Linked DNA regions of Homo sapiens: all the other regions are linked to region 1. Evidence: fine-mapped expression QTL. A gene starts in region 1. Each other region holds a variant in brackets. All regions are shown on one strand. Distances are between the middles of the regions. Region 1 holds the start of TBL1XR1 (TBL1X/Y related 1). Region 2 overlaps TBL1XR1 (TBL1X/Y related 1). Region 3 overlaps TBL1XR1 (TBL1X/Y related 1). Region 4 has its middle 36 kb from the start of TBL1XR1-AS1.

Evidence for each region. PIP is the estimated chance that this variant, and not a neighbour inherited with it, causes the effect.
Region 2: its variant is the best candidate, but not a certain one, in a credible set for the expression of TBL1XR1 in thyroid (GTEx, PIP 0.62).
Region 3: its variant is the best candidate, but not a certain one, in a credible set for the expression of TBL1XR1 in T cells (TOPMed, PIP 0.76).
Region 4: its variant is the best candidate, but not a certain one, in a credible set for the expression of TBL1XR1 in tibial nerve (GTEx, PIP 0.56).

The regions. Positions count from the first base shown.
Region 1 is chr3:177,193,277-177,201,161 of GRCh38, forward strand. TBL1XR1 (TBL1X/Y related 1) reads right to left here and starts at 4,206. Exons shown (of 16, transcript NM_024665.7): 1 at 3,845-4,206. RefSeq lists enhancers at 424-1,014, 3,783-4,292, 4,293-4,800 and silencers at 3,248-3,297, 3,778-3,877, 3,988-4,177, 4,418-4,797.
Region 2 is chr3:177,028,812-177,036,696 of GRCh38, forward strand. TBL1XR1 (TBL1X/Y related 1) reads right to left here. Exons shown (of 16, transcript NM_024665.7): 13 at 5,387-5,514; 14 at 4,160-4,325. Among named protein-coding and RNA genes, the nearest start is that of TBL1XR1-AS1, 4.7 kb to the right of the region's middle. The variant C/T (reference allele first, on the strand shown) is at 3,827.
Region 3 is chr3:177,086,886-177,094,770 of GRCh38, forward strand. The region is part of intron 2 of TBL1XR1 (TBL1X/Y related 1); the gene reads right to left. Among named protein-coding and RNA genes, the nearest start is that of TBL1XR1-AS1, 53 kb to the left of the region's middle. The variant C/A (reference allele first, on the strand shown) is at 3,761.
Region 4 is chr3:176,997,678-177,005,562 of GRCh38, forward strand. No RefSeq gene overlaps it. Among named protein-coding and RNA genes, the nearest start is that of TBL1XR1-AS1, 36 kb to the right of the region's middle. The variant A/G (reference allele first, on the strand shown) is at 3,414.

The sequences.
Region 1 (7,885 bases):
CACAAAGACTTCAATGATTTTTCTTACACAAATTTTTTGTTTGTTTGTTTTTGAGAGGGTGTCTCCCTCTATCGCCCAGGCTGGAGTGCAATGGCGCGATCTTGGCTCACTGCAACCTCCACCTCCTGGGTTCAAGCGATTCTCCCACCTCAGCCTCCCGAGTAGCTGGGACTACAGGTACCCGCCACCACGCCCAGCTAATTTGTGTATTTTTAGTAGAGACGGGGATTCACCATGCTGGCCAAGATGGTCTCAATCTCTTGACCTCGTGATCCGCCCGCCTTGGCCTTCCAAAGTGCTTGGATTACAGGCGTGAGCCACTGCACCCAGCAAGACTGCATCTTATTAAATGGTGCTAGGGAATTCAGCACAATGATATGAGTTCTATCAATTTCATTTACCCATGTAATCACTCGACCCATTTAGTACAGACGCTCAACTATAGATCATAAACTTGATTAGAAACACAAGTTTTTGGAAGGATGATCTACACGGATCAAGACTAACAAAACAGCTGGGAAAATTCCGCAGATTCAGTCATCTAAGACAGACCCAGGTTTGAATCCTAGTGTTCATTTAATAATTTTGTGGCCTTGAACAAGGGAATTAACTTCTTTGCATCTCTGTTTCATCATCCACAAAAAAAGCCCAACACTATCTACCTCATAGGATTAGCCTAGGGTATAAACAGCATAGAAAGCACCTCACACCTCCTAGAGCATAGCCCGGAGCACCTAGTCCCTCTCCTCTGGCTCTATGGTTACAGGGCAATTAATTGCACTCTTACCGAATCCAATCCCAGAGGGGTAAACAGCCAAATCTCTCCAGCATCAGCGCTCTCAGAGTCTTTTCTTTTTAACTTCAAGTTTCTATTGGTGGCAGAGCAGGAGATACCACCTTCGTGGTACCTAAACTGAACGATACTCAACAATTCTTTACTACACAGCTCTAGGGTCCTAGCCCTCCTCTACTACCAGAATGTCTGAGCATAAAGTATAAATGTCTCGTGTTAGCTGCTTTCCTTTTTTGCATTTCAGTGACTTATACTGTAAATGTTATTTGTGAAATGAGTCCAATTCACATGCACTAGAAAAATACAAGTTCTAGTGAATACCAATGTTTCTGCCATGCCTCTCCCCTGACTTCCTACCATTCACATTCTTCTTTATTCTTTTTATATAAATGACACCAAAAATTGAACAAACCCAACAAATTATTTCAACCAACTTCATCAAAATGTGTCAAGTCAGGAATTCTTTATAATAGTACTGCTACAAGTTGTACTAGGGAGATTCCTTTGTCAGCTACTCGTCTGACAAGGTTGTATATATACTGCACTGATAGATTTAATCAACAAGTTGATGTTCAAAAGGTCTATTAATACATTTCCTTTTATCAGTACCCCTTATATTTATATTACCTTCTGTTAGCTTGAAAGGCTCCTAGAACACAGGAAGCAGTTACCTCTAATTCTTTCGGGAGACTGGTGTCATGGTAATCATGCAAAACCTTTAATTAGGTGTCGAGAATACAAATATCAAAAAGATTCTTAGACATACGTATTAAAATGCTTAACACTTCTTTGAAGCAACCAATGCAAAAATATCATCTCTGCAAGGGGTCACTCCATTTACCACCAGTGTCTCCCACATTAATACCCAAAGCTGGTATACGTTAAAAGAAAAATGTCATAAACTGACGGTGAGCTTTGCAACAATTTTTATGCCATTAACATGTCACTTTATTAAGTTCCTTAGCAATAAGAAAAACTTTTCCCAGGCACGTAGTTTTCGTCCCCCATACAGTTTAGTATTTTGTCCTGTAGGTCGGATTCCAACAACTCAAACGTCAAAAAAAATAGTAGTTATTTATGAATTTAATGATTGCGATTACATACATCTCAGTGCAGGATAGGGTTGAAAAAAAAAATCATATTCCAAACAAGAAAACCTGGATTTAAGAGCAAGAAGCCTAATCACACATCACACGCCTAACTGCTCTCAGGCATACTTTCTTCCTGCAGCCCCTCCCCCACAGGTAAATGCTAACTATTTCTAGAACTCTCAACTATTTGGGAAGCTTGCCATCAACTCCCATGATACCACCCAACCCACACCATGTTTTCGGGGAGACAAAGGTGCCCTACTTCCCCAGACTATAAACTATTAAAATGGTGAGAACATACAATCCCAGGAAGTCGGCATTACTAAAATACATCAATGTAGCATGGGTCTTATTTTAACAAAAATGAAAATGAATCACACTGGAAAACCCAAACAGTCACTCATTGTATCTTCAACGTGTAATCGAAATTATTTATTCCAAGTTATTTCAGGTAAGTAGATGAACACACCACGAGGGCCTTATTATCCAAACTGGTGAAGAAGCCTTTAGGAAAAACGGAGGGGGAAGATCACTTAATTATATGAGGTGGGGGGTAGAGCAACCATTCAGTCTTAAAATTCAAACTAAAAATAACCTGGCATTTTCACCCCCCACATTTTATTAACAAGCTTGTTTAGATCAGCATACGGTTCCTGTTTGGAAAACAAGAAAGTGAATAGTAAACTTTCCTAAGTCAACTGTAAATCACATAGGTACTAAAACTCTTCACCCCTGGTGCCTGCACAGTCCAAGATTTCAAGTAAACTCCAGACACTGAGAACACCTAATTTTTAACTAGTTTCCAACATTTCTCATTTGTAATCACCAAATTATCTTAGAGACACTTAGATAACCTAACAAAGAGAGCATTTTTTAAAAGCCACAACCCAAATTTTACATGAAATACACCATTTTCACAACCTAAATTTAATCCCGGTTGCCACTGCGAAGTGATGCCTGTTTCAGCAAATTAAGAACTTCCAAAAATACTGAACACGTTAACACATGCATGGCTTCCCTCGAGCTGCCATTTAAGATTAATATTCCACTTAAATAAAAGTCTGCTTCTGTTCAAAAAATTAAATCGGTTGCAAAGAGGAAGTTACCGAGAAACCACCCTCACAACGTGGCCTTTACACTGTCAGAAAATAACGTGACTCTGTGCCACCCAAAACTTACCAGGAAGCTGGCAATAACTTTGCCAATTCTACACTCCTGAACCCAACTTCAAAGAGCCTCCACCAAATACCTCCTTAAGACGATAAAAAGCACTAAGTTACAAATAAACACGTCCCGGAGCAAGGCCCGGCTGCCGCGCGCCCCTCCCCCGGCCGGCGCCCCCGCCCCGGACGCGCGGCCCCAACAGCCGCCCGCAGCCCCCAGCACGCCGGCCGGGGTCGCCGCGCCCGGGCCGGGGACGCGCCCGGGGAGGGGAGATTTCCATTGCCGCCCGAGGTTTCACAAAATAGCATGCACCGAAAAGCTCCTTCTCCTCTGCTAAAAATAGGCTATAAAGGAGTCGGCCTCATGATGGCTCCTTGATTCAATTTGCTGCAAATCCTTTCCTGAAAGCCTCCCCCCCCAAACACACACGCACAAAAAGGGGGTGTAAATGCACGAAGGGAGGAAGAGGGGGAGAAGGCCGAGGTGCACATTTTCGGGGACAACATAATTAGGGTGAGGATCCCCCGAGACCGGGAAAGGGTAGGGGGGTGGGCAGGCACGTGAGCATTTCAAAGAAACCTGAGAGAGGAAAACGGGGGGATGGGGGCGCCCCAAGTGCCCTCCCTGCCTTCCCTTCCCCCACGCAAGCCCAGTTCCCCCAAGGGCCAAGTTGAAAAATGCATGTTCCACTCGCGCCCATCCCCCCGCGGCCCAGCGCCCCCGGCCGCCTCTGGCCCGCGCCCCCCGCCCAGGCCCCCGGCCGCCCCCACTCCAGGGTCCGGCCCCCAGCGCTTACCTGGAAACGGTGGCCTCCAACGCCGCTCCCCCCTCCCGGGAATGGAGGCACAAGGAAATTCCCCTCCTCGCCGCCGCCGCCACCGCCTCCAACCACCCCCAAAATAACCCCTCCGGGGGGTGAGAGGCAATTATAACCCCAGCGAGCGGAGGGCGCGGGGGATGGGCGCCGGGCGGGCGGGGGCGGGGAGCGCGGCGCGGGTCCCCAGGTGGCGAGCGGAGGTGCTCCCGCCGCGGGGGGAGGGGCGGGGGCGCACGCGGCCGGCGGCGGGGGGAGGCGGCGCGCGGGGGAAGGGCGCGAGCGGGGAGAGGAATTGAGGCAGAAGGTAAAAGCTGTTACTAAGGGAAAGAGCCAAACGGTTCGGAGCAGCCAACGGCTCAGACACTCAACACTGGGGAGAGAGGAATGGGGACCAGCCAGGCACAAATGAGCTCGCGAGGCCCGCGGCGGCGGCGGCGGCGGCGGCCGCGCAGCAAAACAAACCCGAGCGGCCTGCGCCGGGCGGGCGGGCGAGCGGGCGGGCGGGCGCGCGGGGGAGGGGCCGGCGGGGGAGGGGCGCCGCGGACGCCGGGAGGCGGCGGCGGCGCGGCGGGGGGGCTCCAGCGGCCGCGCTCCTCTCCTTCCCGGCCCGCTCTGGCGGCACTGGGGGCTGGGCTGTGCGGCGCATTCTTTTAAAAATCAGGCGAGCCCCGCGGGCACTCGAAGGCGCCTCGGGGCCCCGGGCCGCCCGCCCCGCCCCCACCGCCGCGGGCCGGCCTGGGTGTGCTCGGGTGTGGGCCGCTGGGCCCGAGACGGGTGGGGGCGGGGAGGCCCGCGCGGTGGCCGGGGTGGAGCCGCCGGCGAAGTTTCCCCAAGGACGCCGCGGGCTCCCGCGTGTCCGGGGGGCGGCCCGGCGGCGTTGGGGGCTGGGCGCACACGCGGCGGGCATGTGGGGGAGTGCGGCGCGGCATCATATGGACATTTGTTTGTGAAAATCTCTGTGAACACCTTTGTGTGCGTAAATACATATGGTTCTCCGAAGCGTACCTGGAAAGGTGCTTTATCTGTAATAAGCGACTTTCAAAATGTGATCCAGAGCACGGGATCTGGAGAGAAAACACGCACACAAGAAAAGGTTTTTGATACTAAACACAAAGCTGTAATTGAAGTATTTATGCCCAAATGTACTGTGAATCAAGCATATGGTGGTATTTATCATCTGGTGGGTCTGTTTGAAAGGTTTGCTCGATCAGTTCTTATTTCACAAAAATAAAATAATGTAACTAAATGTTTACTAAATATATACCTGCACAGTGGCATCCACAGTAGAAGTTTATCCACTTTGTGTACTTTTTGCATGTGTGAAGCACAGCAAGGCGGTTTATAAAGTATAACTTAGATGAGTGATAATGTGGCAGTATGGTTGAGGGAGGGTTGTTTTTAAAGAAGGGAGGCACCTCACAGGTTTTAAAGCAAATGGGGTGGTAATCTTTCTAAGACTTTCAGAAAGATGGGGTAGGGTGCTTTTTAGAGCTTTGTATAAGCTCAGGACTGGAGAAGCAGCCACCCTTTTACATTAAGATACGACTTGAAACCTTTTTGTTATTTCGCTTATTACTGCCTTCAAAGCAAAATAATGTTTGCAGCTTTCTTAAAGGTGAAGGGTTCTGTTTTCCTACTTTCATCAGAATATTTGAAAATAGATGTAGTGATCACTTTAAAGCAACCATCATTTCCTCTCAATATCAGAAACCTGAAGTTTTGCGACACACACACACACACACACACACACACACACACACACACACTACTCGTAACTTGCACCAGTCTGGACTCCTGGTGGCCTAATAAGTTCAGTAATTAGACAGGTGCTTTCTTGGCCAAGGTCAATGTCTCTTTCCCCCCTGAGCCCTTGCTTGGGGGAGCTGCCAGAGGCCTTTCCTGAATGACCTAGTGGGGCAGGGAGCAGGAAAACCATCAGAGGAAAGGGAGTGGGATTGGAAACTCCCTTCCAACCACCAGAGAGTTCAAAGCATATTAGTGGTGTGTCCTTAGAGCTATTTTCATGTATGAAAGTGGGAATGTTGGATTAAACAATGTCACCCGATGGGAATTTAGATAACTGCAGGTTTCCAAAACACTATGCAGAGTGTACAGGGAAACCGCACAAAGCAAGTTTTGCATTTCAATAGGATTCTAAAGCTGAGGCTTGTTTACCTCAGAACTAACACCTTTCAGAAGACTTTATTTCAGAATTGAAAAGAGTATATAGTATCTTCCTTTTTTTTTTTTTGAGTTGATAAATGACGTAGATATCACTAAACATACCCTGTCTTCAGTAAGTAAACTATCTCGGTGGAGCCACTCAATGAAACATATCTATTGGCTTAGATTATTTTTTAAGTTTCATATTGTGCCACCACGGGCGGGTCCTCTCCATACAGCAGTGACTGTAAAATCAAACCCCACTTTCAGTGAGTGAGGACTTCTCAACCATACCATTCTTAAAGCGTCATATTCAAAGCTGCCCACCCCACCCCTTCTCCTTCCCCTAAATGACTTCTATCCCTTATTCCACAAGGGAGGAGACACCCTCCTTCAGGTTCATAGGATCAGGTCTTCCAGCCTGAAGTTCTTATACCCTACACCAAGCTGCCTCCTAAAGTTGTTCAGTGTTAGTTGAGCCTCCTCACAATGATAATAATCCATGCATTTGTTTATATCCCTGTAGTTTACAAGACATTTCTGTGCGTAAATGACTGCATTTAAATATGAAGATCATCGAGGCTGGGGACTTACAAATCCGTTGCAGTAAAATGTACTTTACTCACCACTGTTGGATCATACTAATTGAAGAGAGAGGAGAGAGCAGGAGTACATTTTTTTTTTTTAGGTGGAGTTTCGCTCTTGTCGCCCAGGCTAGAGTGCAATGGCGGAATGTCGGCTCACTGCAACCTCTGCCTCCCAGGTTCAAGCGATTCTCCTGTCTCAGCCTCCCGAGTAGTTGGGATTACAGGCATGCACCACCACGCCTGGCTAATTTTGTATTTTTAGTAGAGATGGGGTTTCTCCATGTTGGTCAGGCTCGTCTCAAACTCCCGACCTCAAGTCATCTGCCTGCCTCAGCCTCCCAAAGTGTTGGGATTACAGGCGTGAGCCACTGTGCCCGGCAGCCTGGAGTGTTTTTAAACAAACAAACAAAAATAGGGGCACCCAAATGTGGAAAGGCCTTGATTCTTCCAGCAAAGGGGGTTTTAAATCAGATCATATTTTGATCCCTTTGATTTTTATATTCTGGAAACTATCTGAAACAACAGTGTGGCTTCAATGTTAAATACTCAGAGAAATAAACCATCACTCAAAGGTCATATGTATTGTCGCCTCGCCCTCTAGCTGTCCCAACATATCCAGCATAAAGGATCAGGGCTGCACCAAAATACAAGCAATGATTAGACTCACTGGGTGAGGAAAGGACAAAGAAGGAACTATTGTTACTAATATTCAGTACTTTGTCCTAATCTAACACTCCCATTACACTTTGAATTAAATGTTAATGTGTTTCTAGAAAGGAGATATTACTGTATTACTAAGAAATTGTAAAGCAAAGGAACACATTAAGTTCTCCGCTGGGTGTGGTGGTTCACGCCTGTAATCCTAGCATTTTGGGAGGCTGAGGTGGGCAGATCACTTGAGGTCGGGAGTTCAAGACCAGCCTGGCCAACATGGTGAAACCTCGTCTGTACTAAAAATACAAAATATTAGTCGGGCGTGGTGGCGGGTGCCTGTAATCGCAGCTACTTGGGAGGCTGAGGCAGGAGAATCGCTTGAACCCTGGAGGCGGAGGTTGCAGTGAGCCGAGATAGTGCCACTGCACTCCAGCCTAGGCGACAGAGTGAGACTCCGTCTCAAAAAAAAAAAGTTCTCTCTTGAATTTTCTAGCTAATTACTCAATGAAGAGAAACCTCATACCAGTAACTGTTATCAGAAGTTACTATATATTGTAAAATGGCTAAACAAATCCTGACTTGTTTTGCCGGGTGCAGTGGCTCACACCTGTAATCC
Region 2 (7,885 bases), 160 kb before region 1:
GAATTATTAAAACTATGCTATTGATTCAGATAAGGCAAATACGTAAATGGAATAAAAGAGAAGGTAATAAACAAACTGCATATACATGAACTAGGTATATGAAACCGGCATTATGAAAACAGAAAGGGGACAATGAATGGTGCTAAGACAACTGACTACCCAAATGGAAATATCTATACCTCACACCATATATAAAAATCAGTTCCAAAGGGGCTAAAAAAATAAATGTAAAGGAATAAAACTTAGATACTTCATGAAAAAATATCAGACCTCAGTGATATCTATAAGGAAAAATGTATTAAGCTATGAAAAAAAAAAAAAGCTATCAAAAAGGAAAGATCTAGCCGGGCACAGTGGCATGTGCCTGTAGACCCAGCTACACAGAATGCTGAGGTCAAAGGATCTCTTGAGCTGAGGAGTCCAGCCTGGGTAACACAGCAAGACCCTATCTCTAAAAATAATCAACTAATTTTAAAAAGAAAGATAAATACATCTAAACATTAACATTAAAAACTTTCATATGATCTGGGCGTGATGCCTCATGCCTGTAATCCCAGGAATACTTTGGAAGGCTGAGGCAAGTGGATCCCTTGAGCCTAGGGGGTTGAGGCCAGACTGGGCAACATGGCAAAACCCGGTCTCTACAGAAAAATACAAAAATTAGTGGGGTGTGGTGGCATGCAGCTGTGATCCCAGCTACTTGGAAGGCTGAGGTGGGAGGATTAGCTAAGCCCAGGAAGGCCAAGGCTGCAGTAAGCCTTGATCTGCCACTGCATTCCAGCCTAGGCGACATAGTGAGACTCTATCTCAAGACAAAACAAAACAACAACCAAAAAACCCCACAAAACTTCTACGTGATAAACACTCCACATGAAGAAAATAAAAAAGAAGGTACTGGGAGATCACTGGAATCCATATAACCAGGAAGGATTAGTACCCAGAATGCATAATGAACACTAATCAGTACAGAATATAAAACAATTGAAAAATTGTGGTGGTGGTGGTGAACTAAAATGCTAAAGTCCAACTGTATAATAACTATTTGAAAAGATATTTAAACTAATTGACAATCAAGAAAATGCAAATACAAAATGTTTCATATCCATGTAATTGGAAAAATGTTCACCAGTCTGATAACCTAAAGATAAAGGAAAATGGGAAATCCTAAATATTGTGATTAGAAATGTAAATGGGTGTATGCACGTTGAAGAGCAGTTAGGCACAAGCACGTAAATATACCGTATGGGCCATGACTTCCACTTACAGGATATGCTATGCACAGGTGTGTGTGTGTATGTGTGTGTGTGTGTATATATATATAGAGAGAGAGAGAGAGAGACAGACACACACAGAGAAGCGTTAGAGAAACTTTCATTCATGTGCACAAGAAAACGTGGATGGATGTTCCAGCAATGTTGTACATTTTTAAATCCCCCAATAGGAAAATAAATTTGAAAATTAATATATTCATATTATGAATATATTATTAATGAATATATTAATATATTCATATAATGCTCTGGAATAGTCTAAATAAATAATCATTCTAGAGGTACAAGTATTAATGTGATATTTCAAAGAAGTGGTAAAAAACACTAGCTTGAAAAGACATACAATAGAAGATTCACAACAGCATGATTAATTACAATTTTACCACAGAAAATAGTAGTATATATCATTTATCATGGGAATGACAGGCACTCTCTTCAGGATTGCTATAGCCTCTAGGAAGGAAGAGGAAAATGGAGGTGAACACTTTATCTGTATCTATAACATTTTATCAGGTAAAAATAGGAAGGAAGAGATTCACAACAGTGTGGCAACATGTTCTTATCAATTAAATCTGAGCAGTAGATATATGAGTGTTATATTATTTTCTGTTTGAAATGTATAATTATTAAAAGTGAAAATGAACAAATACTAACTTGAATATACATGGAAATGATATTATTTAGATTTAGATTCACTTTCATCAACTCTGTAACTGTTGTTCAGTTTTAAAAAGTTTAGTTGGGTGAGGCCGGGCATGGTGGCTCACACCTGTAATCCCAGCACTTTGGGAGGCCAAGGCGGGTGGATGACCTGAGGTCAGGAGTCTGGGACCAGCCTGGCCAACATGGTGAAACTCCATCTCTACTAAAAATACCAAAACTAGCCGGGTGTGGTGGCAGGCACCTATAATCCCAGCTACTCATGGGGCTGAGGCAGGAGAATCGCTTGAACCCAGGAGGTGGAGGTTGCAGTTAGCCGAGATCGTGCCATCGCACTCCAGCCTGGGGCACAAGAGCGAGACTTCATCTCAAAAAATAAAAATAAAAATGAAAAATAAAGTTTAGCTGGGTGTATGATTAGTGTCTTCCCACAAACACAAAGTTAAACTAAAATTTAGGAAAGAGTTTTTAAGGCATATATATCATAGTTACAGAATATATCCAACATAGGCATATATTCATAAAGACAGCAAATATGGGAGTAGAGGTAAGGAAGTAATAATAAAAATTAAAGCAGAACATTTTTACTTAATTTTTATTTTTTTTTTTTGAGACAGGGTCTCACTCTGTTGCCCGGGCTGGAGTGCCGTGGTGTGATCTTGGCTCACTACAACCTCCACTTCTGGGTTCAAGCAATTCTCCTGCCTCAGCCTCCCGAGTAGCTGAGACTACAGACATGTCACCACACCTGGCTAATTTTTGTATTTTTAGGAGAGATGGGGTTTCACCATGTTGACCAGCTGGTCTTGAACTCCTGACCTCAAGAGAACTGCCCGCCTTGGCCTCCCAAAGTGCTGGGATTACAGGCATGAGCCACCATGTGCAGCCTAAAATTTTATTAGAAGGCTCATGGTGGCTCATGCCTGTAATCCCAGCACTTTGGGAGGCTGAGGTGGGAGGATCCCTTGGGCCCAGGAGTTCAAGGCCAGCCCAGGCAACATAGAAAGATCCCGTTTCTATTTAAAGAAAAACAAAAATAAATATTAAAAAATTTTATTAAAATGTAATGTAAGATTCAGGCTTAATAATCATTTGTTCAACTAGCAAAAATCTGCAACCACATTACAAAGGGTTTAGTTTTTTAGTCTATAAAGAGCTGCTAGAAATCAAAGACAATGAATAACCCAGTTGAAAATAATGGAAAAAACATGATCAAACAGTTCACAGAAAAATTAACAAGTGTGCTTAAATATATAAAAAAAGATTCCTAATGTCATTCATAAGAAAATGCAAATTTAAAACTATGCTGAAATACCATTTATCACTAATGGATTGAACTGTGCGGTAAAATATTACTTTATATTGTCAGCAGTAGTGTAAAATGGAAGAAGCACAATGCTTTTATTCATAAAGAAGCTAGGAAGAAATAAAAACTAATAAAAATTGTTACCAGCAGGAGAGGAACAAAGTTTCTCAGTGTATACCTTTATACAAGGTTTGAGGTTTTTTCTGAACTGTATGCATGTATGAAGTAATTTAAAAATCTTCAAAGTAAGTGATGAAAATTAATTTGTGAAATGAACCATGGTGGCGGACACCTACACAAAGAGAAATACACCATAACAACTTATTATGTGTGCACTACAACCAACAAAGATCCGATAACTGAGAGGGGTGAGTTCAGTGACTGCTATTAAAAAAGTATAGTACATAGAGCAAAAAACTAAAACATTGAGAAGATTTAAAAAATTGAAAGCAACAGACTGTTTTCTCCACTTCTAAGAATCTCTGAAACACCATACATACTACCTGAAAAGGTAATGTAGTTGTAAGTTTCTTTCTCATAAATTATTGCATTCAGCCATAAAATCTGGTCCTTTGACTTTTACTGCTCA[C/T]ATATAGCTCCTTCGGAGACAACTATTTTGAAAAATAAAATCTGTCATTTATCTAAATAAATACATCTTAAACATTCACATCTGATATCTGCAAAACCGTTGGAAAAAAACAAAAGAATACAATAATAAATAATAAAACAAATGATCAAAATCCATTTCAAAATTCCAGTCTCCATAAAGATATAACTTCCATTAGTTTCTATCTTATTTTAAAACCAATAATTCAATTAATGCCACAAGAGGAATGACAACCAAATGGTGAGGCAGAGTGTATAGGCAAATGCTTCTACCTAAATTTAAGAGCACTTGACCATTTAAATAATGAAGACATACCTGCGTGTTCCAGATGTGTACACATTTGTCAAAAGAACCACTTGCCAGATACCTGCCATCAGGACTGAAAGCTACACTGTACACAGGCTCTTGGTGTTTTGTCAAGGTATGGATGCATATCCCTCGGTCTACATCCCATAACCTAACAGTAGAATCAAAGGATGCACTGAAAAAGGAAGGAAAGAAAGTTAATTTATAAGTAAGGAAATACTCCCCCAGCCTTGCTCCCACCCAACCTCCCATATTCAGCCAAATCTAATAGCCAAAATTCTTTATGAGAAGCAGACCGACTGGACTGTTAGGAAGAATATTCTGTGATCTTCAAGTCAGTGACAAGAAAATAATAAATAAATGAAATTTAGAAAGAAGAGCAAGTGTTCTAGAAATTAAAAGCTAAACAAGCGAAAAAAACAACTTAAAGGAATCTCCCAAGTCCAGGAGTAGAAAACGTAAATGTGCTCATTTACTGTATTCCTCTCTGTCTAAATAATCCCTCTTTCGCATGGTTTTGAACACCAAAGTGACCACATTTTTCCATTTATCTTTTTTTTTTCTAAAGATACTGAAGATTTTGCTATGCCTCAATTGCTTGGATTTTAATCAGTATTTGGTATCAGTCAATATTTGATTATTTCAATATAGAATATCATTATAACTTGAAACAATAATAAAACTCAGTGTTTAAAGATTCCCCTTAAGGAACCGACGTAAGTGCCCATCAGCTAACAAGTGGATAAAGAAAATGTGGTATACATACACCATGGAATACTACTTAGCCATAAAAAGAAATAAAATATTGTCCTTTGCAGTGACTTGGATAGAGCTGGAGGCCATCATGCTAAGTGAAATAACTCGGGAATGGAAAACCAAATATCATGTTCTGACTTGTAAGTGGGAGCTAAGCTATGAGGACACAAAGGTATAAGAATGATATAATGAACTTTGTGGACTGGAGGTGGGAGTGGGGAGAAGGCTGAGAAGAGAGGTGAGGAATAAAAGACTACACACTGGGTACACTACACTGCTTGCAAAACCAGTGCACAGAAATCAGCACTAAAGAATTTATTCTTGTAGCCAAAAACCACCTATACACCAAAAACTACTGAAATTGGAAAAAAAAAAAAAAAAGTTTCCACTTCATGAAATCTTCCCTAAACTTCTGTCATATCTATTGGAAGTCTGATTTGTAGAAGACTCATAAAAGGAAAAATGAAACAGAAGTATCACCTTGCTAACATAAGGTTGGCATTTGGATTATTAGTCCCTGGTCCTGTTGGACTCCATTTGATAGTATAAATTTCTTTATTATGTGCTTGCAAATCATGGACACAATTGTCTTGTTTCATACTCCATATCTAAACAAAAAAGAAAAATGTATACAATTATTTTTCCATACAATGAGTATATTTAAAATATTATTTTGACACTTAAAATATTATATGGACAGTCTAAAACATGAGTGATATAACCAGAATGATGATAGAATATTTACAAAGAAACTGAAATGCAATAGGATATATTTAATATTTACATCTCTGTTTAAAAAAAAAAGTTAGCTTTAAGCCCTTTAAAAATATTCACTATTACAAAGTTTGAAGACTGAATTAACTATAGTTGTTCTGAGATTAGTTAACGATCCTAAAATGTTGAAGGCACAGTTTTTACACTGTCCCTTAAGCAAAAGATCTACATAATAAACTGCTCTTAGAATTTTAGAATCAGGAAAATTTTACAATGGAGAACTGAAAATAAATAACCAACTTATAAATAATGAGGACTCACAGAGAACCGTAAAAAGTAGCATAGGAAATAAAGCTCAAATGAAAAGTAGGAAAAAAAAAAAGTAGAAAAAAGTAGTCAAAGTAGAGAATAAGCCTTTCCTGAGATGAAAATATGCCTGTGTGTATAGATTTCAAGTGACTATTATTTTTGAGCAAAAATTCATAGAAATCAACACGAAGAGTATTTCTGGGAAAAAAAAAATCACTCAATAAAGACATGGTAGGTCCTGCAGTTATCTCCTTAACACATACACATACAACATGCCAAACCCAAGGAGGGCCAACCAAGAAAAAAATCAGCTCAACTTTACATTTCCGTGACATAACCATTAAAAGATAATGAAGCATCAGAGTGTTTTTGGTGCCCTATGTATTTACAACCCCAAGTAAAATAAATCTGAACGACATGTTTTCAGAACTGATTTCATTAGACCTTTCTAATTCATAGAATTTGATACTGTTGGCCACTCTCAACTCTTACCTCCCTTGAAATAAGTTTCCTCTACATACTTTCTTTTTCCACTTTCTCAGTCACCTTCTCAGTTTCCTTTGGAAAGCTCATCCCTCTTGATTTGGTGATTGTTAGAGTTTCTAAGACTCACTTTTTTAGGTCCCCTCTTTTCTTACTCTGTACTACCTACACAGTTTTGTCCCTGCCCCAATTTTTTTTTTTTTTTTTTGGAGATGAAGTCTCACTCTCTTGCCCAGGCTGGAGTGCAGCACCACAATCTTGGCTCACTGCAACTCCGTCCCCCGGGTTCACGCAATTCTCCTGCCTCAGCCTCCAGAGTAGCTGGGATTATAGGCACCTGCCGCCACGCTCGGCTAAATTTGGTATATTTAGCAGAGATGGGGTTTCACCATGTTGACCAGCCTGGTCTTGAACTCCTGACCTCAAGTGAACTGCCCACGTCGGCCTCCCAAAGTGCTTTAATTATAGGCATGAGCTGTGGCAACATGGGGGCACTAGCTGTGGGTGTCTGCCTGCAGACCCTGACCCAGCAATGGATGAATAAAGTACACTAACACACAGATATCCTGTTTCGCCAGTCCAGCTGAGGGTGTCCGAGCCATTTACAGACTCCCTGGAGAGTTCTGTAAACAGTTGCGACCATGGCCCTATCCGCTAGTGAGACTCAAATTTATTCAGTAAGATTAATTCACAAAGGCTTGAGTCAACACCATTAGAGGGTAACTGACATTGTGGACTTCCCAAGTAAAAAGCACTTAAGCACCCATGGCACATCAAAGGTTAGTCTTAATATTATATGAGTAAACAAGCTAGCTAGGTAAACTACCCTGCCTTCCTTTATTACTAGTTTAATTTGTTTAACTAAAGGTAAAGGAACCAGGCCGCGTTCAGCCAGATCTATTACTGAAGTTACTTCTCAGTTTTCCAAGAAGATATGTGTCTATTTCTATAACTATCTCTAATATTTTTCCCACCAGCCTGATTGAACCCCAACAGTGAACCACCAGGCCTGGCCATGCCCAAGGATTTTAAAGACCACCTATCTGCTGAGAATTCCCAGTTTTTAATCTTGAGCTTACAGTTCTCTAAGCATCAGTCCCACCTATCTCCTCCATTCGCATGACTCAGCGTCACCTTCTCATTCCATCTGGCATTCCCTCTTCTCAGAAAACGGCCCATTACACATTATCCATCCATCCTAGTTTTTGCTTTAAAATCCTTTGTGACATTTAAACATTCTTAGGATGAAGAAAAGCTCTCTAACAATTTCTAGTTTTAACCTCTCTCCAGCTTCAACTCAATATGTGGCACAAGGCCCTCTGGACACTGCCCTTCTGTCATTTCCTCATATGTGTCACACACAGTTCCAGAAGAAGTTTTTTTCATGTTATAAGCATTAATACGTGTGCACATAAGGAAAAGCCAAAGATGAAAGCATTAAGAAGAGTATTAATACTAGCAATTTTGTAAGGG
Region 3 (7,885 bases), 110 kb before region 1:
GCTATTAGATGTTGTATTCTTACAATAAAAGAAGCTAGAGAAAAGGTTATTTAAAAAATCATATGGAAAATATATTTACCATTCATTAAATGGAAGTGAATCATCCTGAAGGTCCTCATCCTCTTCACAAGGCTGAGGAGAAGTTGGTTTTGCTGTCTGAGGGGTGGGAGAGGTAGAAGAGGTGGAAGGACAGACAGGCAGAAAGGCAGGCATACTAGATGCAACTGTACTTTTAAAAAAACCAAGTAGAAGTGAACCCACATAGTCCACACCTGTGTTGTTCAAGGGTCAACTATACTAACCCTTCCATTTTGGGGTTGATTTTTACTTACTTTTTTATTTAAAAAAAAAATTAAACTAATCAAAATGGTTTTTGGCATTTTTCTCTTACATGTTTAAAGTACCTCTATGTAATCTGTTCTATAATCATAAGCCCTTAGGCTCTAAGTCACTTTTTTAAAAAATATCAGGTTGTAATAAACTCAAAATGATCCCAATAAACATCTGACAGGAAATGAAGGCCTAACATATAGAGGGTTGTGAATTAAGAACTTTAGCATTCCAACCTTTTTGTTTTAAAAACTCTCCTTACAGGTGCTAGTAAATCATAGAAAAAGAGAGAAAATAGGCATGGTGAAGGATTTCTGTTTCTATGAACCAGGAATAAATCAAAAGATATAACTAAAATTAACTGGCTTAAGAAAAAGGACAGAAGTTGAAGAAGCAAACAAACAGAACCTGTATGAAACTAGAAGTTCCTGTCCTTTACACACTAACTTTAGCATGTTAATTTCTGTCTCAAGCAAAATTTTTTTTTTTTAAATCATGCAATCTTATCCACTGGACGGATGGATGAATGAAAGGAAAAAAGAATGGGGGGCGGGGAGTCTTCAAATGGCTTCAATACACCATTGAAGTAAGAAATGGCCTTCAGTTTCCAATTTTATGGCTATATGGGACCATGCTGTCCAACCCCAAATAGTCAAAATCTAGTAAGACCAAATTTAATATAGTACACCCAAAGAAAATTAGGAAAACTTAAAAATAAGCCAGATAATATTCAGTGATAGGACACCTTTTGTTTTAACATTACCGTGTTAAACATCTATCCCTCTATTGTGGGTATATGTCCTTGCTCTCACACTACTCTGTGTTTCTCGAGGTAAGACAGCTAGTATTTTATTCCTGAATAGTGCCTACACTGAGAATTTATAGAAAGGACAGCAAAATTATTTGAAACATGAAAAATGTTTTAAAATGAAAATAGTAATTCACCATAACAAGTTCTATCACAGTTAATATAAATTGAGCACCCCAATCTAAAAATTCAAAATCCAGAATGTTCCAAAATCTGCAGTTTTTGGAGCAGTGACATAACGCCATGAGCAGAAGATTCCACACTTGATCTCATATGACAAGTCACAGTCAAAACTCTGGTTCATGCACAAAATTATTTAAAATACTGTATAAAACTGCCCTCAGGCTATATATATATAAGGAGTATATGAAACATAAATGAACTTCGTGTTTAGACTTGGATCCTATCCCCAAGATATCTCATTATAGATATGCAAATATTCCGAAATCCAAGTAAATATGAAATCTGAAATACTCTGGTCCTAAGTATTTTGGATAACCAATGCTCAACCTGTGTAAAGATTAAATCCATGTAAGAAGCCAAGCTTTCTCTGCCTTTCACGTGATACTACAGTCTTTCACAGCTTCCATTTTAGGCTCAGTTATTTCAGCCTCTAATGACAAAGATACAAGGAATCAGTTAAATATAACTCCAATTTGTGTGTGCTCTGCTTTTCTTCATTTGTTTAAAAAAAAAAAAAAGAAAAGAAAAGCCTAGAGACTAAGAGGTGTTCAATGTAACCCTCTTACTGTTGATTTGGGAATCAGCTCTCCAGAGGCATACATTCTCAACCAAATGAAAATGGTTCACACAATATCATGCGACAATGTCCTTCTTTCTTCACATTTAATAATACCAGTTCCTAATCATGATGGTAAAAGATTAAAAATGAAAGTAACAATGAACTTTCCTACAGTAAATAGAACAAATTAATTTATGGATGCTACATTTATAAGTAGGTAATAATCATTGACTCCTCGCTATGTACCACACTCTTTCTCGGCAGCGACCTGTTGGCAGGGTCACAACTCCTTGGGGTCTTGTCTTCAGTCTGGCAAGTCATAACTTCTTTCAGTTTTTTAAGAATAATCAAGTTCTGAGAGAAGATATGTTAACAAAATACAGCAGGGTGGTTTATGAGTAAAAGAGGTGATTTACTAATTACACTGAGAAATGTACCTGTCAGTAGACCAGAATATTCATCAATGCAGAAGAGGCCAGCAGGGCCCAGCCCACATTCCCTCATCACTCAACTTTCCCAAGCAGCTGGGTAGCTTTTTACTGCAAAGCACCCTGAGGCCAAACAGCAGGTCAGGAGCTGCTGCCCTGCCCTCCGCAAAGCCTAACTGCCTAACTCCCAGACTAAGGAATGGGGGTTAGTGGACAAATTACCCGAGGTTCCTTGCCCCTTAGGTGGAAAAAGAGACATGTTCTACACTGTTCCCGAGGATGCCACATGATTTGAGTCCAACTGAACAAAAAAATTAGTCTTTCAGGCAGTCGGTATCAGCCTCCTTTTCCCTTTCTGGCTTCTCCACAGGAACTTTCTAGATCCACCTCTCCAATAAAGGGTTATAATCAAGGGTCTGGTTCCTCAAGAATCAAACCTAAGAGAACTGCTCAGCATCATTCTATTCTTTGTGGAAGAGTCCTGTTGTTAAACCAAATTAATTTTTAGAAGTTGTGGGATGACTATACAAACAGAACAAGAGGAAATAGAAGGGCTCAGGGGATTGATCGACACAGTTGGTAGACTTTTCTGGAAAATAAGAATCTATCTGTGGAACAGTTCAAAGAAAAAGATATGCAAACAGTTCTAAAATAAACTAGCAAACAGTTATAAAATAAATGAAAAGATGCAAATTAGAACCATAGTGAAATACTATTTCTCACCTATCAGATTAAAAGACATATATGTATCAAAAAAGACATCATATATACTGTCTGCTAATGGGGAAAGAGGGAACCTCGTATATTGCTGAAAGGAACATAAGATGGCATAATGCTTTACAGAAGGAAATCTGGCAAATTGACATGCACATTTCATGCTCCTATCTAAAAACTTCCACTCTTGAAACAGCTATCTGTGTAATGGAGTAGAATGCAGCTGTAAAACAATGAATAAAGACTATCTCTATGTCCTGCTATGAAGTGATCTCCAGAATATTTAAGAATACCCATGGATTTGTTTACATTTGAGCAAGATAAACCAAAAATAGTTTGATTTTTAAAACTTGGTTACTTACAAAAGGAGGAAGTAAGAATGTATCTCACTTTGAAGTGATATAAATGTTTCCTATGATTATAAAACAAAATAAAAACAAATATTTTTAAATTCTAAATACTAAAAATAAAATGAAACAAATTGGCCTGGACCCAGCATAGTGGCTCAGGCCTGTAATCCCAGCACTTTGGCAGGCTGAGGCCAGGAGGAGTGCTTGAGCCCAGGAGTTCAAGACCAGCCTGGTCAACACAGGGAGACACTGTCTCTACTAAAAAAAAAAAAAAAAAAAAATCAGCTGGGTGCAGTGGCTCACATCCGTAATCAAGACACTTTGGGAGGCTGAGGCAGGTGGATCACGAGGTCAGGAGACAGAGACCATCCTGGACAACATGGTCTCT[C/A]TTAAAAATGCAAAAATTAGCTGGGCATGGTGGCACGCACCTGTAGTTCCAGTTGCCCAGGAGGCCAAGGCAAGAGAATCACTTGAAGAATTGAGGCGGAGGTTGCAGTGAGCCAAGATCACGCCACTGCACTCCAGCTGGGCGACAGAGCGAGACTCCGTCTCGAAATAAAATAAAATAGAAGTTAAAACAATTAGCCAGGCATGGTGGCATGCACCTGTGGTCCCAGCTACTTTGGGAGGCTGAGGTGGGAGAATCGATTGAGCCCAGAAGGTCGGGGCTGCAGTGAATCATGATCAGGCCACTGCAATCCTACCTGGGTGACTGAGTGACACCCTGCTGAAAAGAAGAAAAGAAAGAAAAAGAAAAGAGGGAGAGGGGAAGGGAAGAAGAAAAGGGAAATGGGAGCAGGAATTGGGGAGATAGGGGAGGGGAGGGACAAGCTGACCCAACTATATATCAAATTGGAGGTGGGCAGGGGGGCAGATTACACATGAGGACTTACTTTAAAACGTAATACTTAGCTGTAATCCCACTGAGACGTGGACAAAAAGAGAAAAATGAAAACAACAGTCACTACTCATACTGGTTAAATATACATTTATAAATATAAAAATACGTATAATTTTATATTATGTTTATTTTCTACATTTACATGTACTTAAAGTACTTATAAAGTACATGTACTTTATATGTCATTTATACTCTACTTTTGTTTAATACATTATTTTCTATTATGTTTACATATTAACTATTGCATATTATATAACATAAATATATAAATATTCTTTTTCACTAAAAGGAATCAGGACTTTAGAGACATAGCTGATCTGAGGACCAATGAAGGACATGTACAAGATGAGCTTTGGCCAACATGTTGTTTTGTCAGAAAGCAAGGAAGCTACCAGAGAGACAATACTAGAGTCATGTCAGAAAAGACTCAGAAGTCAACTTGAAAAGGCTCTTTTGGCCAAGGGAATGACATCAATAAGAATACAAACTACAGTCAATAAAACATATCAAATGCCTAAATCCACACGCTCACAATAACTCAAAAAAATCCTCACTTGTTACCTAGAAAGGTATTCAAGAATACTAGAAAGGCTTCCAGGAAACAACTCAGTACTTTGAAAACTGGTAAATAAAAGAAAGAATCATGCATTTCATATGCCTTTCCTGTGCAATCTGTGCCACAAAGTAACGAAATATCTGTTGGGGAAAGTTTCTCTTTATAGAAATGTTACACATAATAAAAGCTTGATATAATTGAATATGAACATTCTCATTGCCCTCATGGAAATAATGGTTCTAGGAATGATCATCAATGTCGCCTACTGTCAGGAATAAAAAACAAACATTGGGTGCTTCCTTATGCAAGCATACAGTAAGTGTCCTTTATCTAAAACGATTGGGACTACAAGTGTTTCAGATTTTGAAATATCTGCAGTATAACGGTTTAGCGCTCCCATTGTGAAAATGTGAAATCCAAAATGCTCCAATGAGTATTTCCTTTGAGTGTCGTGTTAGTGCTCAAAAAATTTCAGATGTTGGAGCATTTCAGATTAGAGGTATTCCATCTATACTTAGCACCACCTGTGAAATATTCTGCCACCCCAACCTCCCAAAATAATAAAGGAAAAAACCTAAATTAAGATTAGATTAATCTTAATTCATTAGATGAAGCCTTTAGCTATAACCACCAATTTACAGAAAATATAAGGAAAAGATGAACATTATACTACAGGAATCCAATTAATAAAATACAGAATGTAGAAAACTTCACAGGACAAATAAAAGGGAAAAAATAGGTAGAAGCATAACTATACACAGTAACCAAACATAATGTATAAGTTTTGTTGATTCTGTAAAAACATATTAGGAGCAGTTCAGAAAAATTGAAGCTAAGTAGATAGTTGGTAGTGTAAAGAAATTATTGTCAGCACCTCACATCCATTAAGATGGGCACTAGCAAACAAACAGCAAATGTTGTCCAGTGTGTAGAACCCTGTTGCACTATTGGTAGAAATGTAAAATAGTGCTGCTGCTCTGGAAAGAGTACAGAAGTTTTTCAAGGAAAAAAAAAAACCTAGAATTACCATATGATCCAGCAATCCCTCTTCTGAGATCCCAAAAAGAATTCCAGTTCTAAAAAGAGTTGAAATCAAGATGTCAAAGAGATTTGCACATCCATGTTCAAAGCAGGACTATTCATAACAGCCAAGAGGTGGAAGCAACCCAAATGTCTACCAACAGATGAATGGATAAAGAATATGTGGTATGACTTCTATTCAACATAGTACTTACTGGAAGTCCTAGCCAGAGCAATCAGACAAGAAAAGACATCAAGGGCATCCAAATCGGTAAAGAGGAAGGCAAACTGTTGCTGTTTGCTGATAATATAATTGTATACCTAGAAAACCCTAAAAACTCCTCCAAAAAGTTCCTAGAAGTGATAAATGAATTCAGCGAAGTTTCCAGATACAAAATTAATTTACACAAATCTAACTCTTCTATACATCAACAGCAACCAAGTGGAGAATCAAACCAAGAACTCAAACCCTTTTACAGCTATTGTAGTAGCTGCAAAAATAAAATAAAATACTTAGGAATATACCTAACCAAGGAGATGAAAGACCTCTACAAGGAAAACTACAAAACACTGCTGAAAGAAATCATAGATGACACAAACAAATGGAAACACATCCTGTGTTCATGGATGGGTAGAATCAATATTGTGAAAATGACCACACTGCCAAAAGCAATCTACAAATTCAGTGCAATTCCCATCAAAATACTACATCATTCTTCACAGAAGTACAAAAAACAGTCCTAAATTTCTATGGTATCAAAGAAGAGCCCACATAGCCAAAGCAAGACTAAGCCAAAAGAACCAATCTGGAGTCATCACATTACCTGATCTCAAACTATACTATAAGGCCATAGTCACCAAAACAGCATGATACTGGTATAAAAATAGGCACATAGGCCAATGGAACAGAACAGAGAACCCAGAAATAAAGCCAAATATTTACAGCCAACTGATCTTCGACAAAGCTAACAAAAACATAAAGTGGGGATAGAACACCCTATTCAACAAATGGTGCTGGGAGAATTGGCAAGCCATATGTAGAAGAAGGAAACTGTATCCTCATCTCTCACCTTATACAAAAATCAACTCAAGATGGATCAAAGAGTTGAATCTAACACCTGAAACCATAAGAATTCCAGAAGATAACATTGGGAAAACCCTTCTAGACACTAGCTTGGGCAACGACTTCATGACCAAGAACCCCAAAGCAAATGCAACAAAAACAAAGATAAATTAAGATGGGACTTAATTATTAACTAAAAAGCTTCTTCATAGCAAAAGGAACAATCAGCAGAGTAAACAGACAACCCACAGAGTGAGAGAAAATCTCCACTATCTATACATCCAACAAAGGACTAATATTCACAATCTACAAGGAACTCAAACAAAGCAGCAAGAAAAAAACAAATAATCCTATAAAAAAGTGGGCTAAGGACATGAATAGACAATTCTCAAAAGATATACAAATGACCAACAAACATGAAAAAAATACTCAGTATCACTAAAAATAAGAGAAATGCAAATCAAAACCACAATGTGATGCCACCTTACTCCTGCAAGAATGGCTGTAATCAAAAAATGAAAAAATAATAGATGTTGGTGTGGATGTGGTGAAAAGGGAACACTTACACTGCTGGTGGGAATGTAAACTAGTACAACCATTATGGAAATCAATGTGGAGATTCCTTAAAGAACTAACAGTAGAACTACCATTTGATCCAGTAATCCCACTACTGGGTATCTACCCAGAGAAAAAGAAGTCATTATATGAAACAGATCCTTGTACACGCATGTTTATAGCAGCACAATTTGCAACTGCAAAACTATGGAACCAGCCCATCAGTCAACAAGTGGATAAAGAAATTGTGGTATGTGTATATACACCATGGAATACTATTCAGTCACAAAAAGGAATGGATAATGGCATTCATAGCACCCTGGATGGAATGAGAGACCATTATTCTAAGTGAAGTAACTCAGGAATGGAAAACCATAACGTTGCATGTTCTCACTCATAAGTGAGAGCGAAGCTATGA
Region 4 (7,885 bases), 200 kb before region 1:
TTGGGGTTTCACCATGTAGGCCAGGCTGGTTTCAAACTCCTGACCTCAGGCAATCCACCTGCCTCATCCTCTCAAAGTGCTGGGATTACAGGCGTGAGCCACCGCACCCTCCCAATATTTCATCTTCTTTAGCTATTGTAAAAAGAGATACAGTGAGGGTGTGGTAGGCAGAATTATGACCCCTCTACCTAAATATGTCCACATCCTAATCCTTGGAACCTGTGATTATGGTATGTGCAGACCTGCCCCAAAGCCCAAGGAAGCTGACAGGCTGAAGAAAGTGGCTGACAAATCTAGTTTCTTAGAAAGAAACATTTAATAGGGACTTATGAATAGAAGCGATATTTGTGTCTCAGGCAGTGGTGAGATAAGATGGTGGATCCCCATACCATTATCCCCCAGACTTATATAACATAAGGAAAGAGTGAGTTAGAAGGAATATGTAGGACAATGGAAATTAACTAACATCAAGGTTGTTTGATCTAAGGGCCTCATTTACATTAAGTATCTGCCCTTACACAAGGTACAGATACACTGGAAACCTTAGAGGCCTTCCTGGAAGTGGAGTTAATCAGAAGCCAACATGGATAATTAGCATCCCAGATGGAGTTGCTTTAGACTCCACAGTATACTACATGGCAAAGGGAAATACTAAGGTTGTTTGTCAACTGACCTTGAAATAGGCAGATTATCTTGGATTATCCAGGTAGGCCTAAGGTAAATAAAGGATCCTTTAAAAGTTAAGACAGAGGTAGTAGACAGAGGGAGAACCAGAAAGATGGCAGTGTGAGAAGGACTCAACTCAACTTTGGTAACTACGAACATAGAGACAGGAATGTGGGCAGCCTCTGGAAGTGGAAACAGCAAGGAAATGGACTCTCCCCTAGGGACTGGAGAAAGAAATACAGCTCTGCTGATTTTTCAGTCCAGCCTTGGATTTTCAGCTACAGAATATAATAAAAGGCCAAGCTTAAATTATATTTCGTCAATTAGTTGGCTTTGACATATTTAGCAAGAGTAAATAAGTCTGGTCTTGATTTTAGCCCAGTGTGAGCCATTTGGGTTTCTGAACTATAGAACAGTATGTATTTGGGTTATTTTAAGCCAATAAATTTGTGGTAATTTGTTACAGCAGTCATAGAAAATGAATACATGGGATATTGGGGAAACACTGCAAAATTTGTAGTGAGAACACCTGAGTTTCAGTCTCAGCATTTTCATGTATGAAATCTCCACTGCGGCTGCACCACTGCCTGAGAGAGTAGATTGTAAAAAAAAATGGACTGGCTCTGTCTTCTTCCAAGATTCCATTCTCCCACTGGTACCTCCACTTTTAGCAGAACTTACCAGGAATACAGATAACAAGAGAGTCTGAGAAACAGAAATTGCAAGCTCCCTGGCACAGCAGAGAGAGGAGGGTAGAGAGAGCAATGATGAAGATGAGAGAGCAGACAGAATCTGCAAGTATTAAGTTCAACAAATATTTAATGGTCCCTTCTCTGTAACAAATATTTTCCAAGTCTACTTTGTATTTATTCTCTTATGAATCTTGTAAGCATTATAATCCTAATTATTTTCAGATGAGGAAAATGAGAGAGGGCAAAAGATTTTGCCACAGCTACTAAGTGGCAGAGAAGTGGCAGTGGGCCAGGGCTTCTGGATCAATCCAACTTAAATATTCTTTCTCATACACCAATGGTTTTTTTATCATGAGTTAGTAATTTTGAAATGAGTCTGAGGATATAGAGGCAAAAAGGACTTACTTGTTGCATAGGATCTATGAATCCTAACTATGTATGTGCTGAACAAAAGGCCTTCATGAGGTAAAAAATGATAGAACTGAAAGGGGAAATAGACAAATCCAGACTTTTACTCAAACACGCCAACACTCCTCTCAGATTAATCAATAGCATAAGTAGATGGAAAATCAGCTAGGATGTCAGCCACTTGACCTAACTGACAGAACATTCCAAAGACAGGAGAATACACATTCTTACAAGTACATGTGGAATATTCACCAAGATACACTGCATTCTGGGTAATAAAACAAACCTCAGTAAAGTCAAAAGAACTGAATCCATACTAAGTATGTTCTCTAAACCCAACAAAATTAAGTGAAAGATCAAAAACTGAACTATCTGGAAAACAATCAAATATTTGGAAGTCAAACAATGCATTATGGCTGGGCATGGTGGCTCACGCCTGTAATCCTAGCAATTTAGGAGGCCAAGGGAGAGGATCTCTTAAGCCCAGGTGTTTAAGACCAGTCTGGGCAACATAGGGAGACCCTGCCTCTATTTTTTTTTAATTAAACAAAATTTTAAAAATAAAACTTTAAAAACGTTTTAAATTTTTCCATAGTTTATTGGGGTACAGGATGTGTTTGGTTACATGAGTAAGTTCTTTAGTGGTGATTTGTGAGATTTTGGTGCACCCATCACCTGAGCAGTATACACTGCACCCTATTTGTAGTCTTTTATCCCTCACCCCCATCCCACCCTTCCCCCCAAGACCCCAAAGTCCATTGTATCATTCTTATGCCTTTGCGTCCTCATAGCTTAGCTCCTATATATCAGTGAGAACATACGATGTTTGGTTTTCCATTCCTGAGTTACTTCACTGAGAATAATAGTCTCCAATCTCATCCAGGTTGCTGCAAATGCTATTAATTCATTCCTTTTTCATGGCTGAGTAGTATTCCATCATATATATATCATAATTGTTTTATCTGCTTGTTGATTGATGGGCATTTGGGTTGGTTCCATGATTTTGCATTTGGGAATTGTGCTGCTATAAAAATGTGTGTGCAAATGTCCTTTTCATATAATGACTTCTTTTCCTCTGGGTAGATACCCTGATTTGAGATTACTGGATCAAATGGTAGTTCTACTTTTAGTTCTTCAAGGGATCTCCACAGTGTTTTCCATAGTGGCTGTACCAGTTTACATTCCCACCAGCAGTGTAAGTGTTCCCTGATCACCACATCCACACCAACATCTACTGTTTTTTGATTTTTTTTATTATGGCCATTCTTGGAGGAGTAAGGTGGTATCACATTGTGGTTTTGATTTGCATTTCCCTGATCATTAGTGATGTTGAGCATTTTTTAATATGTTTGTTGGCCATTTGTATATCTTCTTTTGAGAATTGTCTATTCATGTCCTTAGCCCACTTTTCGATGGGATTGTTTTTTTCTTACTGATTTGTTTGAGTTCGCTGTAGATTCTGGATATTAGTCCCATGTCAGATGTATAAATTGAGAAGATTTTTCTCCCACTCTGTGGGTTGTCTGTTTACTAACTGTTCCTTTTGCCCTGCAAAAGCTCTTTAGTTTAATTAAGTCCCAGCTATTTATCTTTGTTTTTATTGCATTTGCTTTTGGGTCTTTGCTCATGAAATCCTTGCCTAAGCCA[A/G]TGTCTAGAAGGGTTTTTCCAATGTTATCTTCTAGAATTTTTACAGTTTCAGGTCTTAGATTTAAGTCCTTAATCCATCTTGAGTTGTTTTTTGTATAAAGTGAGAGATGAGGATCCAGTTTCATTCTCCCACATGTGGCTAGCCAATTATCCCAGCACCATTTGTTGAAAAGGGTGTCCTTTCCCCACTTTACATTTTTGTTGGCTTTGTAAAGATCAGTTGGCTGTTAAGTATTTGGGTTTTATTTCTGGGTTCTCTATTCTGTTTCAATGGTCTATATGCCTATTTTTATACCAGTACCATTCTGTCTCTTTTTTTTAATTAAACAAAATTTTAAAAATTAAAAAAAAATAAAAATGTAAAAAAACCCCACATTACAAAAAGAGCCATTGGGCAAAAAGTTACGAAGAAAATTATAAAATATGTTTAAACTGAATGGAAATAAAAACACACCTTATCAATAGCTGTGTGATATAGCTAAAGCAGTCTTTGGAAGGAAATGTAGGCTGGGCATGATGGCTCACATCTGTAATCCCAGCACCTTGGGGGGCCGAGGCGGGCAGATCACCTGAGGTCAAGAGTTCAAGACCAGCCTGGCCAACATGGCATAACCCCATCTCTACTAAAAATACAAAAATTAGCCAGGTGTAGCAGCGCATGCCTGTAGTCCCAGCTACCCAGCAGGCTGAGGCATGAGAATTGCTTGAATACTCGGGAGGCTGAGACACAAGAATAGCTTGAACCCAGGAAGCGGAGGCTGCAGTGAGCTGAGATCACACCACTGCAATCCAGCCTGGGCAACAGAGGGAGATTCTGTCTCAAAAAAAAAGAAAAGAAAGAAAGAAAGGAAAGAAATGTATAGCATTAAAACAAACAAACAAACAAAAAGCCTCCAATCAAAGATTGAAGCTTGCACCTTAAGACACTAGAAAAAAATGCAAATGTAACCTAAAGCAAGCAGAAGAAATGAAATAATCAAGAGCAGAAACTTAATCAAACTGAAAATAGAAAACAATAGAGAAAATAACTCAAAACCTTTAAAAAATGCAATAAAATGGACAAATAAACCTCTAGCAGTCTGAAAAAATTTTTAAAGAGATGACACGAATTACCAATATTGGAAGGACACCATACCAATTTTGTATTGAAAAAGTAGCTATTAGACCCTAAAAACATTAAAAAGATAATATTGTTAATATTACAAATAACCTTAGCTCATAAATTCAAAAACTTGGGCAAATTGACAAATTCCTTCAAAGGCACAAACTACGAAAGAAGAATAGAAAACATGAATAATCTAAATTTTCTAAAGAAACAGATTCATGATTAAAAACATTCCAACAGAACAAAATCTAGGCTGAGATGGCTTCATTGGTGATTTCTCCCAAGTGGTTAAGGAAGAACTAATACCAATTACAGTACACACAAACCTCCAGAAGTTAAAATAGGACGGATCACTACCCAAGTCAGTTTATGAAGCCAGCCTTATCCTGATACCAAAGACATTACAAAGTAAATAAATAAAACTTCACATCATTCTTCATCAACCTGGAACAAAACATTAGCAAATTAACCCAGAAACATATAAAAATGACAGTACATAATGGGCAAGTGGGGTTTATCCCAGGAATATAAGCTTGGTTCCACTTTCAAAAATTAGTCAATATACTTCACTACATCAGCAGACTAAAGAAGAAAAACCATATGATCATCTCGATGCATGTAAGAAAAGCATTTATAATTCAACATTTATCTGTAATAAAATATTCAACAAACTAGAAACAATAGTTCCTCAACTTCACAAAAAGCATCTAGAGAAAACTTACAGGTAACATCATACGTTATGGTGAAAGAATGAATGCTCATCCTCCAGGATCAGAAAAAAATTTAAAGATGTCAGATCTGACTGTTCCCATTCAATATCATACTAGAAGTCCTATTCAGTACAATATGACAAAAAAAAGTATTTTAAATGGCATGCAGATTATAGAAAGAAATAAGACTATGTCTATCAACAGATGACATTATTATCTGTATAGAAACTTCCAGAGAAACCCCAAAAGAGCTATCAGAACAAATAAGTACATTTAGCAAGGCTGCAGAATAGAAGGTCAATATACAAAAATAAATTGGATTTCTATGTACCAGCAGTGAAAAACTAGAAACTGTAATTTTAGAACAACAGTATTGTCTATACAAAAAAATATAAAATATTTAAGTATAAATCTGACAAAGTAAGTGCAAAGGCAATTCAGTGGAGAAAGAATAGTCTTTTCAACAAATGGTGCTGGAAGAATTGGATATCCATGTGCAAAGAAATGAACTTTGAGCCATATCTTGCAACATATGCAAAAATTAACTCAAAATGAATCCCAGACCTAATAGTAAAACTGAAATCCATAAGTCACATAAGAGAAAACTTTTGTGAACTTTGGTTAGGCAAAATATTTTAGATATGACACCAAATGCTGATTGCTTTAAAAATGATAAATTGGACTTCACCAAAATTAAGCATGTCTGCTTTTTGAAAGACACCATTAAGGCTGGGCATGGTAACTCACACCTGTAACCCCAGCACCTTGGGAGGCCACAGCAGGAGGATTGCTTGAGGTCAGGAGTTCAAGATCAGCCTGGGCAATATAGCGAGACCTCAATTCTACAAAACATTACAAAATTAGCCAGGTGTAGTATCATGCACCTGTAGTCCCAGCTACTCAGGAGGTTGAGGCAGGAGGATAACTTGTGTGCAAGTGTTGCCTTCCAAGTTGCAGTGAGCTATGACCACCCTGCTGCACACCAGACTGGGTAACAGAGCAAGACCTTGTCTCTAAATAAAATAATTTTTTAAAACACCGTTAAAAAAAAAATCAGGCTGGGTGCAGTGACTCACACCTGTAATCCCAGCATTTTGGGAGGCTGAGGTGGGTGGATCACTTGAGGTCAGGGGTTTGAGACTAGCCTAGCCAATATGGTGAAACCCAATTTCTACCAAAAACACAAAAATTAGCCGGGCGTGGTGGCACCTGCCTATAGTCCCAGCTTCTTGGGAGGCTGAGGCAGAAAAATCACTTGAACCCAGGAGGTAGAGGTTGCAGTGAGCCGAGATCACACCACTGCACTTCAGCCTGAGCAACAGAGTGAGACTACATCTCAAAAAAAAAAAAAGTATCTGATAAAGGACTTGTATCCAGAATATATAAAGAACTATCAAAGCTCAATAAAAAGAAAAAAGAAAAAAATTCCAATTTAAAAATGTGCAAAAGTTCTGGACAGACACTGAACCATAGAAGATATATGGCTGGGAAGTAAATACATGAAAACTTAGTCAACTTTATTAATCATTAGGGAAATGCAAATTAAAACCACATTGAGATACCACTACACACCTATTAGAATGGACTAAAAAAACCTGACAATTACAAATGTTATTAAGGATGTGGAGCAACAGACTCTCATTAAATTTTGATGAGAATTAAAAAAAAGGTACAGCTACTTTGCCAGTTTGGCTGTTTCCTATAAAGTTAAACTTATATATACTATACAACCTCCCTCTCAATCCCATTCCTATGCATTTACCCAAGTAAACTGAAAACTTTTGGTTGCACAAAAACCTATGCATAAATGTTTATAGCCACTTTATCCATAACTGCCAAATACTGGAAATTACCAAAATGTTCAACAAGTAAATGGATAAATTGTGATATACCCATACAATGGAGAAGTAATTAGCAATAAGAATGAATATTGATTAATCTAACAAAATGAATGAATCATGAATCCATTTTAGAAATGGAAAAAAGCCAGATTTAAAAAGCTATACATTATTTCATTTATATGACAACATATAAAAGGCAAAACTATGTGGAAAATAGACCAATGATTGTTTGAGGGTTGAAAGAGTGGTGATGATTACAAAGTGGCTACACACAGGAATTTTTACAGTGATGGAACTATTGCTCTATGGCATTTTGGTGGTTGATATGTAAATGACTCTATGCATTTATCAAAACCCATCAAATTGTATACCACAAAGAGTAAATTTTACTACATGCAAATTAAGAAGTAATTCAACTAAAATGTCAGAATGAAATCCAGACTGAAGAATGAATTCAATTACATTACAATTACATGACATAGCCTCTTTGAAGAGGTGAGAAAGAAAAGGCACGAATCTAAGTAACTTAAGAAAATACTGGTTTGGAACTGGGTAATGAACAGAGGTTGTTAGAGTTTGGAGGGCTCAAATGACAGGAAGATGAGGGAAAGTTTGAAACTTCTTAGAGATTGGCTAAATAATTGTGACCAAAATGCAGATAGTGATATGGACAGTATCCAGACTGACAAGGTCTCAGATGGAAATCAGAAATTATTGGGAACTGGGGCAAAGGTCACACGTTATTCCTTAGCAAAGAACTTGGCTGCACTGTGCCCCCGCTCTAAGGATCTGTGGAAGTTGAAACTTCAGAGTGAT